Regions from separate parts of the Homo sapiens genome. Here region 1 is linked to region 2. Evidence: fine-mapped expression QTL. A gene starts in region 2. The other region holds a variant in brackets. All regions are shown on one strand. Distances are from middle to middle.

Region 1 (2,925 bases), 77 kb after region 2:
CCACGCCCGGCCCTTTTTTTTTTTTTTTTTTTTGTATTTTTAGTAGAGACAGGGTTTCTCTCTGTTGGTCAGGATGGTCTCGAACTCCCAACCTCAGATGATCCACCCGCCTCGGCCTCCCAGAGTGCTGGGATTACAGGTGTGAGCAAATATCATTTTTTCTAATTCACCCTTTCTCTGAGGGCAAAACTCTTTATGGTTCTTGGTTTAGGGGAATCTTCATTCTAACTCCCTGGTTTGAGCCCTAAGCTTTTCTCCTGGCCTATGTGCCACCTTCTTAAAACTAGAATCCGGCCAGACATGGTGGCGCAAGCATATAATGCAAGCACTTTGGGAGGCAAAGGCAGGTGGATTACTTGAGCTCAGGAGTTTGAGACCAGCCTGGGCAACACAGTGAGACCTCATCTCTACTAAAAATCAAAAAAATTAGCTAGGCATGGTGGCACAAGTCTGTAATCCCAGCTACTTTCAGAAGGCTGAGGTGGGAGGATCACTTGAGCACAGGAGATCAAGGCTGCAGTGAGTTTGATCACGCCACTGCACTCCAACCTGGACAACAGAGCGTGATTCTGACTCAAAAAAATATAATAATGGCTAGGCGTGGTGGCTCATGCCTGTAATCCTAGCACTTTGGGAGGCCGAGGCAGGCGGATCATGAGGTCAGGAGATCAAGACCATCCTGGCTGACACGGTGAAACCCCGTCTCTACTAAAAATATGAAAACAAAATTAGCCGGGCATGGTGGCAGGCGCCTGTAGTCCCAGCTACTCCAGAGGCTGAGGTGGGAGAATGGTGTGAACCTGGCAGGCGGAGCTTGCAGTGAGCCAAGATCGCACCACTGCACTCCAGCCTGGGTGACAGAGCGAGACTCTGTCTCAAAAATATATATATAATAATAATAATAAGAAGAAGAAGACTAGAACTCTGGGCCACCTGGGCTTAGTAGATACTCTTAGGGGCAACTGATACCCTAAGCACTTGCTTACCTCCCTAGCTGCAGACTTACTTTGGTCTGGCTCCAGAAGATTTCTTTTTGCAAACTAAATAATATGTTTTGGCCGGGTGCAGTGGTCTGTAATCCCAGCACTTTGGGAGGCCGAGGTGGGTGGATCACCTGAGGTCAGGAGTTTTGAGACCAGCCTGGCCAACATAGCTGAAACCCCATCTCTACTAAAAATACAAAAATTAGCCAGGTGTGGTTGTGGGCACCTGTAATCCCAGCTACTCAGGAGGTTGAGGCAGGAGAACCGCTTGAACCCAGGAAGCGGAGGTTGCAGTGAGCCGAGATCATGCCATTGCACTCCAGCCTGGGCAACAAGAGTGAAACTCCGTCCCAAATAAATAAATGAAATATTTTTAAAGGTGTTCTTGTTTAACATTCTAACAGGCTTCATATCAAAGTAAATACTTTCTAAAATTGAGTCTGCCATATTGCCAAAAAATAGAAGTCTACAAATTCTATCTCTTCCTAGCCGTCTCACAAATCCAAAACTTCAGTAGTTACTGATTCCAGTACCATATCTAATTTTCCTTCA[A/T]CATTTTTCTTTAATGACACTACCTCCCATCCACCTATTTACAACAAAAAATTGAGCAAAGCTCCTTCCTCCCTCAAGCGTTCACATCTTAGTATAACTCTCATTGATTCTAAGTTCTAAATATTTCTTAAATTTGTTCTCTCCTTCATTCTAGCTACAATTGCCTTCACAATTCATTATTTCTTTTCTGGGTCACTAAAATAATCTGTTTCCATGCTTACCTCCCACAAATCCATTCTTTACATAGCTGTCAGCAAAACCTATTTAAAATAAAAATTGGATCATGCCGTTTGCATAATTAAGTCTTCAGTAACTCCATATTGCTGTCAAGATAAAGTCGCAGGCCAGGCACAGTGGCTCACGCCTGAAATCCCAGCCCTTTGGGAGGCGGAGGTGGGTGAATCACTTGAGGCCAGGAGTTTGAGACCAGCCTGGGCAACAGAGCAAGACCCCATCTCTACAAAAAATACAAAAATTAGCCAGGGATGGTGGCATGTGCCTGTAGTCCCAGCTACTCAAGAGGCTGAGGTGGGAGGATGTCTTGAGTATGGGAGGCAGAGGTTGCAGTGAGCCAAGATCGCGCCACTACATTCCAGCCTGGGCCACAGAGTCAGACTCTGTCTCAAAAAAAAAAAAAAAAAGATAAAGTTTCAATTACTTATCGTGGCATATAAGGTCCTCTACAATCAGTCCCTCCCTGTGCTGGGTCATACCAAACTACATATCATCTTTTGCTTGATCTGCCATCCTCCAGTCAACCCTACACCTCATCCCAGCTTCCCCAGCCACTGTCAGCTCCTTATCTTTCAAAACCCAGGTTACAAATCTTCTCTTCCAGGAAACTTGCAGGCAAATCCTTACTGCACCCTTTGTTACATCACAGCGCATGACGTGCTTCACCATCACTGCACTTACTACACCGTATTGCAGTCATTCTTCTGTTGCCCCAATTAGACTATGAATTCCCTTCAAAGGCAGGTAAAATTTTATCGTTATCCACAGTACCTGGCACAGTGCTGATTACATGAGGTACTTAGTATCTATCAAATGAATGAATTAATGTTTTTGACTTCTACAATACCTTTTGAGATTGACTCCTACTTCCACTGCTACTCTCAAAGTTCAGGCCCTTTATTCTGTCTCTATCCCCTCACATGTCCTTCTACCTCTAGCTTATTAACCCACCTAATGGTACCCAAATTATTTCTAAAGCACAGTTCTGATCATGTCCTGCTTACCGTCAGAAACTACTATTGCTGTTAGCCCTTGGATTTTTTTTTTTTTTAAAGAGACAAGATTTCACTCTGTCACCTAAGCTGGAGTGCGGTGGTATGATCATAGCTCATTGTAACCTCAAACTCCTGGGCTCAAACAATTCTCCCACCTCGGC
Region 2 (2,925 bases):
TTGTCTAAGTAGAGATACACAAATTTAAAGCATTTTACATTGTAGAAAATATTTACATGTCTATATGTTGTATACTCTATTGCATGCTACTGGTAATCTGCTACATGCTCTTCAAAGTTTCCATAGAATTTGACATTAACACTTTCTTAAACTCCTTTCTATTCGTAGCTTCTGAGACATTGTCCTATTCTAACTTTCCTGCTGCCCTATAACTACTCTCTGCATTCTGCTAGTTTTATTACTTATTAGCTGACAACCTTGGGCAAGTTACTTAATGTCTCTGAGCCTCAGGTTTTTCCATGATAAAATGGAAATAAAAGGAGGTTAATACTTCCTGTTTATGTCTGTTGTCATAATCAAATATAAAGATAGTGGATGCTTTCCAAATGTTAATTCCCTTTATGGGCTCCTTATCCCCCTTACCACTTCATGAATGTTCCTAAGGTCCTACCTTGGATCTTTAATCTCAGCACTCTCCCTTGGCAATCTCATCTAGTCTCTTAATTTCATCAATTACTTCTTGCAGGTGACTTTCAACATGTCAAAATAGAATGTTTAATTCCCCCCCCCCCGCCAATCAATTTTCTTCATCTAGGATATTTCCCAACTCCTTCAGATGAAATTTACTCACCTAACTCATCCTTCAAGATCCAGTTGCCATGTCATTTGCTTTATAAACACAGCATTCCCCTTACCTACAGCAAGAACTGATTCTCCTTAGTCTGAACTCACAGCATCTGTTTATAGCTCTCATATGGACCTTATCTTATCTGTCTTGTATGATAAATGATACTACCAGTACTCCTTGAGTACAGGGTCTGGTGTTTGTCTCCTCTCTCCTTCCAGTACGTAATACATTCCCTTGCATACTGCAAACATTAAATTACTACATTAAGTAATTTTAAAATTTATAGTGCATATTAGTATGATTTCTGAAAGCTCTAGATCAGCCAATTTCTATACATAAAATCATGTAACAATGGTAACTATAATAGAAGGCTATAAAACATAAATGAGTTTTAAGGCAGTCCCCGCAAAATGCAAATAGAGAAACCAAACAATTACATTAGAACGTGTGGCAGTGATTTTTCAATTTAGAAAAGCCTAAATATTGAATATTCTTCTTATTGCAAATCCCAAAGAATACCAAGTCCCTGAATCCTGCCTTAAATATTGCATAAAATATACAAATGTGAAGGCTGTTTCCCTGACCATGAGGAAACAATCCTAACTCAGCCTTCTTTAACTTCCAGGACTCTGCGGAATTGCTATCTCATCTGAGCCACACAGGACACAAAGCTTCAGAAGCTCCCAGCAACCTTCAGGAAAGAGGCACAGAATTCTAAGCGCAGACTGGCAAGAAGAGGAGGATGAGGAAGAGAAAGGGGCAAACCCTCTACCTGGGAGCCGGTGCACCATCACAGGAAGGAAATCCACTGCAGTGGCAGAATGACTCCTGATAAAATGGAGAAAGACTCGAAAAAACATTTTTGTATTGAGCAGATCCAGTGATTTCCAAATCCTCTCACACTGGCAGTTTTGAGTACTACTAAACAGTGAACACGCACAGAACTGCCTGGACTGTCCCTCCCTCACTGACAGGTCAAAGAGAGGACGCAGCTTAAGGGGCGGGGCTTATTTCCATGACAACCGTCCAAACACCCTAGCTATAATACGCAGCTGTTTGAAATATTAAAATTAGACCACCAATAGTGGTCTCCCCCGCCCTAAACTTTTCTTTTTCAAACCTGTTCTCACACTACAGTTAAGTCCGTTTATCCTGATGCACAGCATCAATTTTTTTATGCCACTCCTCTTCTGGAAGATTCCGACACAGAATAAAGTCCGAATTTAGACTGCCACTAGAGGACGCTACAATCTGGCAACAATTTACCTTTCATCCTTTTTCTCTGCCTTTAAATCACTTCATCCTTCCTTTTCTTTTCTATTCATTAATTTTACAGAACATTTTCTGACAATCTAGCATGAGTGAAAGTATGCCCTTAAAATGTATATGACTTTATTAACATTTTTAGCACCAATGTAGCAAATACTGTGCTACAAAGTAAGAATACCAAGAAACAAGATTGTCCCTGCTCTCCAGTTTAGACCATACACTATTCCCCTTCATGAATTATCATCCCAGCAAAGTGACTAACATACCATGATACGTTTGTTCTTCTGTGCCACTGAAGAAACTTTTCCCCTGCCTGAAATATCCCCTTTCCTTTTCAAAAATCCAATTTAAAATCTACCTCTCTGACTCCCTTACCAAAAGGTCTTCTAGTAACTCCCACAGCACTGCCACAGAGTTGCTTTTAACATTAACATATCATGTTTTCCTAGCAAAATTGTATTTCAAGAAAGAAGTGGTTAAAATTGTCAGAAGGGAGTGTCTTAATACATATAGCAGAGTACGAAGATAGTTCGGTATATATTTTGATTAGTAATCAATGAAAAATAACTTATAAATTTGTGATATTTTATTGAAATAGTAAAGAGTAACATTAGAAGTGTAAATTAAAGGGCAATAGTATTCCTGCAATAGCATTTCTCCAGTTGTGAGATAATAATAATTATTATTATTTTCTGAGACAGAGTCTCACTCTGTCACCCAGGCTGGAGTAGAGTGGCACAATCTCGGTTCACTGCAACCTCTGTGTCCCGGGTTCAAGTGATTCTCCTATCTCAGCCTCCTGAGTAGCTGGGACTACAGGTGTACGCCACCATACCCAGCTACTTTTTTTAATTTTTATTAGAGACAGGGTTTTGCCACGTTGGCCAGGCTGGTCTCGAACTCTTGACCTCAAGTGATCTGCCTGCCTCAGCCTTTCAAACTGCTGGGATTACAGGTGTGAGCCACCATGCCTGGCCAAGATAATTACTCTTGTCTACGTGGATGGTACCAAAGCCATCCAAATTTGA

What was found. PIP is the estimated chance that this variant, and not a neighbour inherited with it, causes the effect. A credible set is the group of variants that fine-mapping cannot tell apart.
Region 1: its variant is the best candidate, but not a certain one, in a credible set for the expression of BCO2 in whole blood (TOPMed, PIP 0.86).

Annotation. Positions count from the first base shown.
Region 1 is chr11:112,097,377-112,100,301 of GRCh38, reverse strand. No RefSeq gene overlaps it. Among named protein-coding and RNA genes, the nearest start is that of SDHD, 12 kb to the right of the region's middle. RefSeq lists a silencer at 323-531. The variant A/T (reference allele first, on the strand shown) is at 1,536.
Region 2 is chr11:112,174,165-112,177,089 of GRCh38, reverse strand. BCO2 (beta-carotene oxygenase 2) reads right to left here and starts at 1,578. Exons shown (of 12, transcript NM_031938.7): 1 at 1,401-1,578. The coding sequence starts at 1,488.